Homo sapiens: one gene and its partners. The protein of the gene in region 4 purifies or fractionates together with the protein of the main gene of each other region. This does not show direct contact. Each region holds a gene or a part of one and is shown on either strand. Other genes may lie near its edges.

Region 1 (3,663 bases), on a different chromosome or scaffold from region 4:
CCAGGACAAGGCATGATGCATACTGACATGGTCAAGATAGAATTTTAAATGGTTTTCATATTATCACTTCTCTTAATTTTGAACAAGTCATTTTTGTCTCTGCAGCAAATACCTCCTTCCCTCTGCTCTGCTTTCCTTTTCCATCTGTCTTCTTTCTTCCTTCCTTTGTTCTTAATTTCTGGGGCCAAGGTACTGTCATGACTGTGTACCTGTGATGACTTGGGTTAAGAAATTTAAAAGACATCAAATGATCCAAGAGGCACTTAGGGTTTGATTTAGGGTACTTAGGCTGTGATTACTGAGAAGGACTTCTTAGACCTGATCTGTATTGGATGAAGTGACCTTCACTTTTTTTTTCCCCCCCCCCAGGAAACTTGGATTTAACTGGCCAGAAGCAGGTATTCAAAGCAGAGAACAATCCCTGGGTGACCCCCATTGCAGACCAGTTCCAGCTTGGCGTGTCCCATGTTTTTGAGTATATCCGTTCTGAGACATACAAATAGTAAGTAGACTCTGATTTTCTGAAATAGTAGACTGTGATTTTATAGTATTTATAATTACGCCTTTAAAAATATTATGTGACAGTATCCTATTGATGGCAGTTAGCACTTAGCATTTTAAGATGTTTTATTAAAAACTGCATGTCGGCCAGGTGTGGTGTGGCTCACAGCTGTAATCCTAGCATTTGGGGAAGTCGAGACTAGAGGATTGCTTGAGCCCAGGAGTTTGAGACCAGCCTGGGCAACATAGCAAGACCCCGTCTCTACAAAAGAAAAAGAAAAAGAAATTATCCAGGCATGGTAGTGCATGCTTGTCATTGTAGCTATTCTGGAGGCTGAGTTGGGAGGATCACTTGAGCCCAGGACATTGAGGCTGCACAGAGTCGTGGTCATGCCCTGCACTCGAGCCTGGATGAGAGAGCACGACCCTTTCTCAAAAGAAAAAAACAAGAAAAAACAGCATGTGGTCATTGTCTCTATTTGTAAATTGTTTTTTATTGATATTTTCAAGGGGATTTTTACTGATTTTCTTTAGAGAATTTTTGAGGTATTAAATTAGTTGAATATTCATGGCACTAAGGAAATTCACCATTCAGATCAGAACATATTTTTTTTCTTCTGTGAATGCAAAGAATTACAAGTGTTCTGAACAAAATTGTTAAGCAGTTTATTTATAAAATCAGTAGAGAGTACTAGCAATGCGTCATTCTATTATAGAGAAGCTTGTACTGTAGTGAGATGATAATCTCTTAGAGAAAAGGGGAAGGCAGGAGAGGAAGCGGAATCTGCCAGCTTAAAGTCACAGCATCCAAATACCTCAAGTCCTCACTCCAGGTGAAAGGAGTCTATGCAAAACTGTCCCAAAAACCTCACGATTCCTGCTTCTTTCTTCCTCCATGTGTCAAGGTTGAAAGGAATTCTGCCACTTCCACGTGCTTCTGTTGTTATATGTACCGTCATTATTTTCCTACCTTATCCCAGCCCCCAGCTGCAAAACAAACTGTCATTTATCAAATACTTGCCTGACCCCAAATGCTGAGATCTAGTATAATTTTAAGCATATACAAAAAAGACAAAAACATCCCTACTCAAATGTAATCTGTTTTTGTGTCTGACATCAACTTTTAAAATTTATTTTTTAATTAATTAATTAATTTTTTTTAAGAGACAGGGTCTCACTGTATTGCTGGGCTGGAGTGCAGTGGCACAATCACGGCTCACTGCAGCCTCAAGCGCCTGGGCTGAGGCAATCCTTCCATTTCAGCCTTCCAAGTAGCTGGGACTACAGGAGCACACCACCATGCCCAGCTAATTTTTTTAATTTTTTGCAGAGACGGGGTCTCCCTTTGTTGCCCAGGCTGGTCTCAAACTCCTGGTGTCAAGCAATCCTGCTTTCATCTTCCAAAGTGCTGGGATTACAGTCATGAGCCACCATGCCCAGCCTGGCACCAACTTTTGAGAATCTAACATCCCAACTATTGGAAGAAAGCTAGAAGATTGCTAAAGGTCACATTTAGTTAAGAGTTTCTTTTCTTTTTTTTTTTTTTGGTATCAGAAATATGTCCCACACTCAAGAAAACCCTGTGAATCTGTGCCAGGCCAGTGGGTCGGGATTGATTGGCAGGGCAGAGCCTCTGCCCAGAAGTGGCTGGCTGCATTTCTGCAGTCTTGCAGCCTGAGCGCCATGCTCCTGGTCAAACATTTAGCACTTGCTGTGGCCATGTTTCCACCAGACAGAAACAGAGAAGACAAGCTGTAAAGAATAATGGCCAGCCGGAGCATGGTGGCTCACGCCTGCAACCCCAACACTTTGGGAAGGCAAGGCGGGTGGATCACTTGAGGTCAGGAGTTTGAGATCAGCCTGGCCAACATGGTGAAACTAAAAACACAAAAATTAGCTGGGCATGGTGGAGGGGCACCTGTAATCCTAGCTATTCAGGAGGCTGAGGCACAAGAATCGCTTGAGCCAGGGAGGCAGAGGTTGCAGTGAGCTGAGATCGTGCCACTGCACTCCAGCCTGGGCGACAGAGCAATATTCCATCCCAAAAAAAAGAAAAAAGAACAATGGCCTTAAAATGAAATACACTAAAATTGCCAAAATGATACCGTATCCTCCTATATAAAAGCAATGTAAAGCGTGGTTTAGATTACTTTAGACAATACTATGACACTTACAGTATAAGTCTAAAGACTTACCTTAAGGATAAAATGAGATAGGTATAGGATGTGTATTAATTGTTTCATAAGCCATATAGATATGTACAGTTATTACAGATTCAATTTTTTTTAAAAAAATACGAATGTAGCTCACCCTTAGAAATTAGTTAATTATGAAAATGTGTGAAAATATAGTCACAAATTAGCAGATGATTGTTTATCTTCTTCTTTGTAAATTGTTAATCATTGCTATCGTGAGTTTTAGATGGGGCTCTAATTTTTTCTTAGTAAACAGGAAGCTATTTAGAGCTTGGTTTGTATGGTATCTTGAAAAAAGTCATTCTGTATATGATAGTATACAGAAAAATGCATGAACAAACTCCTAGCCATCTGGAATTAGAGGAAATTCTCTGTTTATTATTCTGGTTAACAATTTTTAGTTTTCCATAGATCACTTTATAATTTATAGAGGATGAGAATACATTGCATATGAAAGTGCTTTTAATTTTAAAAGATTAAATTGTGAGTTTCTGGATTTTGTATTACCTCAAAGTAATTATTAGGCAATTAATCACCATTCTGCACTGTTACAGACTATTTTAACTGATTTGAATGTGGTTAGGATTCTGGATAAATGAGAGGTATCTATAACATAATTGGTATATCTGTTTTTATGTCTGTTATTAGCATCCTATTTTGGGGGGTTGGCGTAGTCTAAGCAATGTGTCTGCTAACTTTTTCTGTTTCATTTCCTCATGGAGCCTTGGATTACCTTTTATGCAGTTAAGTCAACATTAAAAAGTTTCAGTAGGCTGGGTGCGGTGGCTCACGCCTATGATCCCAGCACTTTGGGGTGAATTGTGGGGTGATTCACCATGAGGAGGGTGAATCACTTGAGGCCAGGAGTTCAAGACCAGCCTTTCCAACATGGTGAAACCCCATTTCTACTCAAAATACAAAAATTAGCCGAGTGTGGTGGTGGGTGCCTGTAATCCCAGCTACTTGG
Region 2 (3,663 bases), on a different chromosome or scaffold from region 4:
CACCTTAGTGTAACAAGCTCTCCTCTAAGTTTTAAGTCTTGAGATGGGATTTTATTGTGAATGCTTGACCCAAGTTCCTTTTGTTCTCAGGCCCTTATTATTTAAGGCATGGAGAATATCTGAATATTTTATCTAAGCCAGTGTTGCTGTATTCCTCTCCAGCTAAGTAATTTGAATTGTCAGCGGTTGTCAGATTATACTAGTTTGTTTTGTCTAATTTTTGACACCTCACCCCTTAATGAAGAATGACTCAGTAAACAGAAAAATACCAACAAAGAGAGAGAGAGGAAAAAAAAAAACAACTAATACCTAAAATCTATTTAACTATTCCCCAGGTAATCATGAGTTTTCTGTACTTACATACCCCTTCTCTGCTTATGTCCCTTGTTTACAGAAGCACTTCGGTTAGTGACTCTCCTGAGAACAAGGTATTTCTGTGCAATGACAGAGCTTCCTAACTTGATAAATTCAGGCCAGATATCTCAGACTGCAATAATGATGATAATAATAATAATTGCAGTTAATATTTAAACAGTATTTACTATGTGCCATGTACTGTCTTAAGTATTTTACTTGTATTAACTCATTTGATTTTCATGGTAACCCAGTGAGATAGATGGGTTATTTATTTTAGGGATGAGGAAACTGAGGCATAGAGAAGTTATTTACCCAGTGTCACACAGCTAGTAAATGCCAAAACTAGGGTTTAAATCCAGGCAGTTCGACTCCAGACTGGTCTGTATTGCTTCTTTTTCATGGGAGAGTTAACATGATTCTAGTTAGTGTTGAAGTCTACAGTTTCTCTATTACTGTGTCCTTAGCTCTTTAACTTTTACCTCTTATGACCTTTCACCACTTGATCTGATGCTCTCCTGCTTTTTAAATTCTTCCTCCTTGGACACATGGTAATGTCTGATAGATTGCATAGTTAGGTTTATTTCTTAGACCATTCAGTAAATATTTATTAAGACATTGGAAATTATACAAATTGATTTAAATTCACCTCTGCTGACCGTGATGTGAAAGACACATTAGGTCTCAATAAACTGTTGAGTCTCTCTTGCATCTCCTAAAGATGCATCACCAGGCCCCACTTGGCAGGGTGATTAACTGAAATTCAGTTAAACTCAATATAATGGTAGCCAGCCTTTTGCATTTTTGTCATTTTTTTCTTTGTGGAATGAAATGTTTTCTCCCCTTGTTTAAAGGAATTTCAGGCATCAGCAGTGAAGCCAGAGATGTGAATGCAAGGGGGACTCCATGCATAAGGGCATAAGGGAGGAGCAAGTGCGCCTACTTGAATCAAGAGAAACAATATTTAGTTTTTTGAGGGTACTTAAGGGCCTAGTAGTTAGAAGGGAGACTATACTCTTGAAGGCACTACGTTAGCCGGGCACGGTGGCTCACGCCTGTAATCCCAGCACTTTGGGAGGCTGAGGTGGGCAGATCACGAGGTCAGGAGTTCGAGACCAGCCTGGCCAATATGGTGAAACCCCATCTCTACTATAAATACAAAAATTAGCCGGGCGTGGTGGTGTGTGCCTGTAATCCCAGCTACTCAGGAGGCTGAGGCAGGAGAATCGCTTGAACCCAGGAGGCGGAGGTTGCAGTGAGCCGAGATCACGCCACTGTACTCTAGCCGGGGCAACAGAGTGAGATGCTGTCTCAAAAAAAAAAAAAAAAAAAAAAAAAAGAAGGCACTACTTTGTTATTTATCCCAGTCAGTCCCTGCTGAAGCTTCTGGAAGGCTTGGAGCTGCTGAAGCCAGAGAAACCTGTGATACTGGCTGGATTTTAACAGTCTCTAGACCCACTCTCATTAGATGCCCAGGTCTGCTAGCAACCCCCTCCTTCCAGGTCTCCCTCACTTCCTATGTGAACATTCCTGCTCTTTCCTTGCTTCTAAGATTTTCTGATTTTTTTTAAGGTTTCCTTCTTTCTTTTCTTTTCTTTTCTTTTTTTTTTTTTGAGACAAAGTCTCATTCTGTTGCCCAGGCTGGAATGCAATGGCACAATCGGCTCACTGCAACCTCCACCTCTCAGGTTCAAGCGACCCTCTCACCTCAGCCTCCTGAGTAGCTGGGACTACAGGCGCCTGCTACCACGCCCGGCTAATTTATTGTATTTTTAGTAGAGACGGGGTTTCACCGTGTTAGCCAGGATGGTCTCAATCTCCTGACTTTGTGATCCGCCCACCTCGGCCTCCCAAAGTGCTGGGATTACAGGCGTGAGCCACTGCACCCGGCCTATTTTCTTTCTCATTCCCCTCCCCAGCTCTCCCCCTCTTTTTGTTTAAGACAAGGTCTCGCTCTGTCGCCCAGGTTGAAGTGCAGTGGCATGATCTCAGCTCACTGCAATCGCCATCTCACAGGTTCAAGTGACCCTCTCACCTCAGCCTCCTGAGTAGCTAGGATTACAGGAGCCACTACCACACCCAGCTAATTTTTGTATTTTTTGTAGATACGGGGTTTCACCATGTTGCCTAGGGTGGTCTTGGAACTCCTGACCTCAGGTGATCCACCCTCCTTGGCCTCCCAAAGTGCTGGGATTACAGGTGTGAGCCACTATGCCCGGCCCCTCCTCCCCATACTTCTTTAGACTGCTCAGATATGAAATAACTTCAGAAACCTACCCAAATATTATGATCCTGCATGTTTGCTATTTCACAATCAATGACATTTTGAGGCCACATTGACTATAAATAATCACATCTGTCTTTGGAAAAGCCACATTTTGTTTCACACTAATTTTTTTTTTTGTCCTTGCAAAGTTGGCTTTCTGGATGGAGAGAATGATGTGTCTGGCAATAGGGATCTGTACATTTCCTATTTCAAGAGCACACAAAGTACTGACATCTGAAATGAAAACACAAAAGGAAAAGCTTAAACTTGCCACATAGGAAGTTCTTCATGCTTGAATAGTGTCTTCATAACCATAATGGGATTTTTTAGGATTATAATAGTTCTTTTTAAATGCTTTATTTACTTAACAAATAGTAATCAAATCATTGCAAATTCTTATATGGAAGATTTAGGCGCTGGCAGCAATAGTTACATAAATTATAATGTCAACTATGACAAACCTTCTATGTGTCTAGAGCTAGAATATAAAATAGAAGTGTGCCATCATGGCTACAAATGGTTAAGAATATAGATTCTAGGCCGGGCACGGTGGCTCACTCCGTAATCCCAGCACTTTGGGAGGCCAAGGAGGGTGGATCACCTGAGGTCAGGAGTTCCAAGACCAGCCTGAGCAACATGGTGAAACCGTGTCTCTACTACAAATACAAAATTAGGCCAGGTGTGGTGGCTCACGCCTCTAATCCCAGCACTTTGGGAAGCCGAGGCAGGCGGATCACCTGAGGTCAGGAGTTCGAGACCAGCCTGACCAACATGGTGAAACCCCGTCTCTACTAAAAATACAAAACTAGCCGGGCATGGTGGTGCATCCCTGTAATCCCAGCTACTCAGGAGGCTGAGGCAGGAGAATCGCTTGAACCAGGGAGGCAGAGGTTGCAGTGAGCTGAGATCGCGCCATTGCACTCCAGCCTGGGCAACAAGGATGAAACTCCATTTCAAAAAAATAGATAGATAGATTGATTGATTCTAGAGTCAGAATGCCTGTGTTTGAGTCCTGGTTCCACCAGTCATCAGCCAGGTAGTCG
Region 3 (3,663 bases), on a different chromosome or scaffold from region 4:
AGGATGGCCTAGAGGAGGCAACAGGGGACAGTGTGTGGCTAAGCCCCACGCTAACAGGTAGCCTCCACAGGAAATCACAGCCAATAGCTGACCATTTGTAATTGAGTGTCTATCATGTACGTGCAAAGCAGTTTCAAGATATTACTTCTAGTAGTTGTGACAACTACAAAGTGGAGGAGAAATCATCCCCATTTTGTAAGTGAAAAAAGTGGTAAATTTGAGATTCAAACTCAAGTTCTCCTGACTCCAAAGTTTGTTCTCAAATAGATCTCAATTCTTTCTAGAGCCACATACAAAAGAGGAGTCTCAGTGACGTGGAGTAACTAGCAAGAGGCAGCATAGCACAGTGGTAAAGAAGGTGGGCAGTGCCTCCAGATTATCCCGGGTTTAGATCCTGACCCAGCTACTTACTAGCTGTGGGACCTTAGCTATATTACTTAATCTAATCGTAACTCAGTTTCTTCATCTGTAAAATTAGCTGTTATGAAGATAACTTATTTTATTTTTACCTAATAAAAATCTACATGCTACTTAGCATGTGCCAGGCACTGTTCTAAACACTGAACAATGATACAATTCATGAGGAATCAATGAGCTCCAACATGAACACTGGCTTCAGGTATTTTTAAAGTAGAAATTGTAGACTTTTTTTTTTTTTTTTTTTTACTTTTTGTTTTTTTCTGAGACAGGGTCTCACTGTGTCACCCAGGGTGGAGTGCAGTGGTACAATCTCAGCTCACTGCAGCTTCGACCTCCCAAGCTCATGTGATCCTCCCACCTCAGCCTCCCAAGTAGCTGGGACTACAGATGCACACCACCATGGCCGGCTAATTTTTGTATTTTTTGTAGAGGCAGTGTTTCACCATTTTGCTCAGGCTAGTCTCAAACTCCTGCCCTTAAGCAATCTGCCTGCCTTGGCCACCCAAAGTGCTGGGACTACAGGCACGAGCTACCACTACCAGCCTGACATTTATTTCTTTCACTCATTTAACTCATTTATTAATACTATGTGCAGGACACAGCACATTTTTAGGTTCAAATCACAGCACTGAAAAAGCCAAACAAAGTCTCTACTTTCATAGAGCTTATGTTCTAGGAGCATGAGAAATAAATAAGCAAGCAAACAAACAAATATGCAATCATAAGCATACATTATGAATATGCATGTAACTGAACCACAGAGGTATTCCGCTTGGCTCTCCAATGCAGAGGCTAATTTTACCACCGCATCCCTTAGGGTCAGTGATGTGCTAGTCAATGTTTAGCAACAAGTTCTTGGGTGAGGGGAGGGGAGTCTGCTTTGTAGCATGGGCTGATTTCTGTGGTGTAATTACTTCCATCATGGTCAATTTCAAGTTCTGAATATGACATCACTGAATGAAGAATTGGGAGGAGAAGCTCAGTTGCACAGCATTTTATACAGTATTTCCACCATATAGCCACAATAGATGTAACTAACCTCAAGAGAATAGATAATAGTGAAACATAGCAAAATAATTAGGAAGAGTTTTGAGTATTTATTATCTTGGCTCTTCATATAATGTGTTTAATTGTAAGTTTATATGATTTAGTTTTTATAATGGCTGTGTTTTACAACTGGCTCTCAAAATTCTCGAAAGTTTAACAATGAGCTTTTGGGAGCCAGTATGAGTTTGGGGTGCAGAGAAAGTGGGGACAGTGTTAGAGATGAAGGAGACTGAGTCCAGATGGTGCCATTGTACAGAGGTGGATTCTAATCTAATTCCTTTTTAGCTCCTCTTCTCCAACAAGCTCTGCTTCTATGTACACACGGAAGCACCTGCCCTCTAAACCGAAGAGCATGGGTACAAATATAGTAACAATTTTGACATTCTTACTAGATCAGGTCACTCTTGCAGAGAAACTTTTGGCTCTCCAATCTTTAGTGAATATAATCCATGTACTCAGTGCTCTGAATATGGTAGATTCTTCTGTGCAATACAGAGGATGTAATTCCTAACTGCCGAATAAAGGAAGAACCTAGAGATAAATTTTCTGTCCTTCTGCAAAAGCAAATTATCCCCCATCCATGCACTCAAAGTCTCCTGTCTCTTAGGGTCCACATACTTTCAAAAGGGCCACCCAGGGAAGCATCTAAACCAGGGGCTGTGATGACTCCTGCCCTAGAGAAGATGTAGGGGTGAGGGTGGAGGTGGAGGAAGCTTCTCCCCTCTTCAGGATTTGTGCATCCTCACCACAAAGTGGAAACAGAGAAAAACATCTTCAGCTTTTCCTAGGAAGCGAAATATCTGCTCAAAACCTCCTAAGAACAGAAATACTTAAAATTTTTTTTCTCCTAGATTCACCCCTCCCCCTAAGCCTAAATTTCCCTTAGTAATGATGGCTGGAAAAGGAAGTGGGAAATACCATGAGAAATTTTATTCTTGCCACATTTCCAGTCCTTTACAAAAGCAAACACTGGAAATCTCATCAGAAAAATTTGACCTTACAGGGTTGATAACTTTGTGCTTAAACTGAAAAAAAAGCAAAACTAAAGGTTTTGCTCTTCTGGCCAAACGGATTATTTGGCATATGCAACTATAATTTTTAGAAAGAAATTATTCAAAACTAAAGAAATAGGCTTCTGAGGAATAAGTAACTACATACATCTACTATCAATTATTTTAACGATAGGTGCACAGAACTGTTTCTGAGCCAGGATGTTTTATCAGAGTCACCAGGGAACTTTTACAAACTACAGATGCCTGGACCCCCTTCTAGACCTACCGAATCAGAATCTCTAGAGGATAGGTCTCAGGGATGTGTATTTTCAAAAAGCTCTACAGTTGATTCTGATTAAGATACTGGTTAAGATGCATGGGTATATAGGCAGATTGGGCAGCATTGTATAACCTAAATTTGCTAACTGTTAAAACATGCTCTCTTACTATCAGGGGAAGTAATGTGGTATATTGAAAAGGTTAACTGCTTGGAACTTAGGAGCTGTGTGTTTTGGAACTATCTTACCACTAATTAACTGGATGACTTTGGTCAAGTCACTTGGTTTGTTATTTCATTCAACAAATATTTATTGAGATTCTGCCGTGTGCCACGCACTGGGTATATACGAATGAAAAAAAAATAGAGGTTCCTGTCCTTATATATCTGACAGACCAATAAGACAGGGCAGACATTAATCGAAGAAACCTACAAATACATACATAATTTTACTTGGTGTGGCTAGGCTTTGGAGAATAAAAAATAGATCACTGGTTCATATTTTAAAAAGAATTTCTACTTAAGATCCCAAATTTCCTGTCCCAACCTTCCCACACATAATATAATTATATGTTTTAAGTCCACTCATTAATAAAACACAAAAACACAAACTTAAAAGCTACTATGAATTCAATAACTCTTTTAAATAAATTAGCATTTTATCATTATAATGTATGTATAGAATTAGAAAAATAGTAGCACATATGATGTAAGATATATTATTTACTCAGAGTAGCTTGCCAAAAGCACTTGCTGCATATACAGATTTGTTTACCTCTTGCAATGACTTTGTGGCCTCCCAGGGATCCACCACCCAGAGGTTAAAAACCTACAGACCACATTAATGAAGACTAAAACATGGTACTTGAGTAGATATGGCCCTTCTCTTCCACAACAGATATCACTATCAGTGACCACATTTTCCCC
Region 4 (3,663 bases):
GGGAGGCCGAGGCAGGTGGATCACCTGAGGTGAGGAGTTTGAGACCAGTCTGCCCAACACGGTGAAACCCCGTCTCTACTAAAAATACAAAAAATAGCTGGGTGCCATTGGCAGGCGCCTATAATCCCAGCTACTCAGGAGACAGGCAGGGGAATCGCTTGTGCCGGGGAGGTGGAGGTTGCAGTGAGCTGAGATGGCGCCTCTGCACCCCAGCACTGGCAACAGAGCGAGACTCCATCTCAAAAAAAAAAAAAACAAAAAAAACAAAAAAAAAAACAAAACCAGAAAAATCCTAAAACCAGAAGGAACCATAGTGACCTTCTAAGTTATTTCACAAATGAGAAGCAATCTGAAGCTGGGTGCAGTGGCTCACGCCTGTAACCCTAGCACTTTAACACTTTAGGAGGCTGAGGCGAGTGGATCACTTGAGCCCAGGAGATGGAGACCAGCCTGGGCAACATCGCAAACCTCGTCTCTTAAAAAAATACAAAAATTAGACAGTTGTGGTGGAATGCATCTGTAGTCCCAGCTGCTTGGGAAGCTGAGGTGGGAGAATCGCTTGAGTCTGGGAGATTGAGGGTGCAGTGAGCGGAGGTCGCACCACTGCTCTCCAGTATGGGCAACAGAGTGAGACCCTGTCTCAAAAAAAATAAATAAATAAATAAATGAGAGAGAAGCAATCTCAGATTAAATGATATTCTTAACGTTGTATAGTGAGGTGATACTGTTTTACACAAGGCAAATAAGAGTCATAGCTGAAGCTTGAAGAAAACTCTTGAATGAAATACAGAAAATGAGAAAGCAAAGACTCACCATTGGTGTAAAGCCTACAGGTGAGAGCAGGATGCTGTGGGCAGGTGGACTACAATCACACACAGAAAAAGGAAACATTGACATGTGGCGGGTGAGCCAAAGTAATGCAGTGTCATTGGAGCTATGAGAATTAAAATTTTCAAGAAATGAATACTTTCTAGGTAAGAAGAATGAGGACTGCTAAAATGCCATTTAATTTTCCAAGGAGGCAGTCTGTAACTCACAAAATTATGGTTTCATTAGTCTTGGAAATACGGACTAGAGTACCAGGTCTTAATTTGAGATTGTGTTTTTCTTGGATCCTTGTTTATGTCTATTTTGTAACAGTCACAGTATATGCACTATGAATTTTTCTAGAACTGTACTGTGTAGTATGGTAGCAACTAGCCGTAAGTGGTTATTAAAATAGAAATTTAAAACTTGGTTCTTCATTTGCACTAGCCACATTTCAAGTGCTCAGTAGCCACATATGTCATTTTGGACAGCACCTTGGACCAACCTCCTCTCTGTCATACTGGACAGCACAGATAATAGAACTCTCTCATCACTGCAGGAAGTTAGGTTAGACAGTACGTTAGACTCCCCTGAGATTGGTCTTAGAAGGGAAGGGGAGGTAGTAGGATGGTTTCTTTAGGGGAGGTGAGAAGATGAACCATAGAGGACCACTGAACCAGTTTTGAGAGTACGGGAGTGACAGCAGTGCTGGGGCTGAGGAGTTCCCAGGTTCCAGTTCCTTTTACAGTGGCTATATTTGGGAGCTGGATGGTTAACGTTACTTCATGTTAGAACATCAAGTATGACTTTAAGTGGTGTGGTTATATACATGTTTCTTGTTCTTTCCAGTTCCTCTGTAAAATATCCCAGGTGCGCTTGGGAAAAATGTATGGTCAATGTGGTAATTCACACAAAGGAATATTATTTTGAATTCCTGAAGCAGCCAGCAATATCAAATGCAGTGTGACTAATTTTAGAATCAAACTAGTAGTAAAAATGTAAAGCATTTCCTTATTCACTTTTAACTTTCTTCTTTGCTCTTCACAATTTCTAAATTTTTATTGTTTGAAGGAAGTCTTAAACCTTGGATTTAAACTGGTTTAACTGATTTCTTATTTAAAAACTGGGTAATAGATTTTCCCATTAAAAACAGGTTTTTGGCTAGGCGCGGTGGCTCATGCCTGTAATCCCAGCACTTTGTGAGGTCAAGATGGGTGGATCACCTGAGATCAGGAGTTTGAGACCAACCTGACCAACATGGCGAAACCCCGTCTCTACTAAAAATACAAAAAATTAGCTGGCTGTGGTGGCACGCGCCTGTAATCCCAGCTTCAGCTACTCGGGAGGCTGAGGCAGGGGAATTGCTTATCCCGGGAGGCAGAAGTTGCAGTGAGCCGAGATCACGTCACTGCACTCCAGCCTGGGCAGCAGAGTGAGACTCGCTCTCAAAACAAAAACAAAAAACAAAAGAACAGGCCGGGTGCAGTGGCTCATGCCTGTAATCCCAGCACTTTGGGAGGCCGAGGCAGGTGGATCATGAGGTCAGGAGTTCAAGACGAGCCTGGCCATGATGGTGAAACCCTGTCTCTACTAAAACTACAAAAAAAAAAAAAATTAGCCAGGCGTGCTGGCAGGTGTTTGTAATCCCAGCTACTCGGGAGGCTGAGGCAGGAGAATTGCTTGAACCCCGGTGGTGGAGGTTGCAATGAGCCAAGATCACGCTGATCGCACCACTATACTCCACTCCAGCCTAGGCGACAGAGTGAGACTGTCTCAAAAAAAAAAACCCCACAGTTTTTTAAAAATGATTTTCATATCATAGAGAGTGGGAAGGTAAGCCACAGTCTTCTTAAGATTTCCAATAAATGCAACAGATTAGATCCAGAATATTTAAGAATGTCTATACACAAGTAAGAAAAAGACAACCCAGGAGAAAACTGAGAAAACACTTGAACTAGTACTTTACTAAAGAGGAATTCCAAGTGGCCAATAAATGTTTGAAAAGGTGCTGAACCTCATCAGTAATCAAGAGATTGAAAAATAAAACCACAGTGGGTACTACTTTACAAGTTGATGATTCCAAGTACTGGAAAGAACGTGGAGCAGTGGAGACACTCATACGATGCTGTGGGAGCTTGTGGGAGTGTGAATTGGTGCCTCAACTTTGAAAATGCTCTGGAACGATCCAGGAAGGTTTAAAATACACATATTCTGTGACTCAGAAATTCCACTCTTGAGATAAATCTCTCAGAGAAAGTTGTGTGTATGTATACCAGGATATATAGTATGATAAGACTGTCCATAGCATTATTCATATTTGACAAAATAGAAACAACTTAAGTGATGATCACCAGTAGAATGGATAAATCAATTGTGTGAAAATGAGCTGGCCAAGTGCGGTGGCTCACACCTATAATCCCAGCACTTTGGGAGTTTAAGGTGGGTGGATCACAAGGTCAGGAGTTCGAGACCAGCCTGACCAACATGGTGAAACCCCGTCTCTACTAAAAATACAAAAAATTAGCCGGGTGTGGTGGCGGGCGCCTGTAATTTTAGCTACTCAGGAGGCTGAGGCAGGAGAATCGCTTGAACTTGGGAGGCAGAGGTTGCAGTGAGCTGAGATCACACCACAGCACTCCAGCCTGGGCAACAGAGTGAGACTCCATCTCAAAAAAAAAAACAAGAAAATGGATGAGCTATAACTATATGCAGTTGCAGGAATGAACCTTAGAAACATAATGTCGAGAAAGTGAAGTGTGAAGCATAATATATACGGTGCAAATATATTTAGTAAAGTTCAAAAACAAAAAATATAAGTGCTAAAAGTACAAAGAAAAGGAAATAATTGCCATAAAA

The links. The genes of interacting proteins can lie anywhere in the genome.
Region 1: the proteins of LRCH3 (region 4) and RSU1 purify together in Homo sapiens (affinity purification with mass spectrometry; one large-scale study listed by BioGRID and IntAct). This does not show direct contact.
Region 2: the proteins of LRCH3 (region 4) and CRLF3 purify together in Homo sapiens (affinity purification with mass spectrometry; one large-scale study listed by BioGRID and IntAct). This does not show direct contact.
Region 3: the proteins of LRCH3 (region 4) and CALD1 purify together in Homo sapiens (affinity purification with mass spectrometry; one large-scale study listed by BioGRID and IntAct). This does not show direct contact.

Annotation. Positions count from the first base shown.
Region 1 is NC_000010.11:16,691,862-16,695,524, reverse strand, and holds part of RSU1 (ras suppressor protein 1), read left to right. Parts: intron 1-369; coding exon 370-502; intron 503-3,663. UniProt on the Homo sapiens protein: Potentially plays a role in the Ras signal transduction pathway. Capable of suppressing v-Ras transformation in vitro.
Region 2 is NC_000017.11:30,786,630-30,790,292, reverse strand, and holds part of CRLF3 (cytokine receptor-like factor 3), read left to right. Parts: intron 1-2,631; exon of another isoform or gene 2,632-2,854; intron 2,855-3,663. UniProt on the Homo sapiens protein: May play a role in the negative regulation of cell cycle progression.
Region 3 is NC_000007.14:134,786,034-134,789,696, reverse strand, and holds part of CALD1 (caldesmon), read right to left. Parts: intron 1-3,663. UniProt on the Homo sapiens protein: Actin- and myosin-binding protein implicated in the regulation of actomyosin interactions in smooth muscle and nonmuscle cells (could act as a bridge between myosin and actin filaments).
Region 4 is NC_000003.12:197,797,619-197,801,281, forward strand, and holds part of LRCH3 (DISP complex protein LRCH3), read left to right. Parts: intron 1-3,663. UniProt on the Homo sapiens protein: As part of the DISP complex, may regulate the association of septins with actin and thereby regulate the actin cytoskeleton.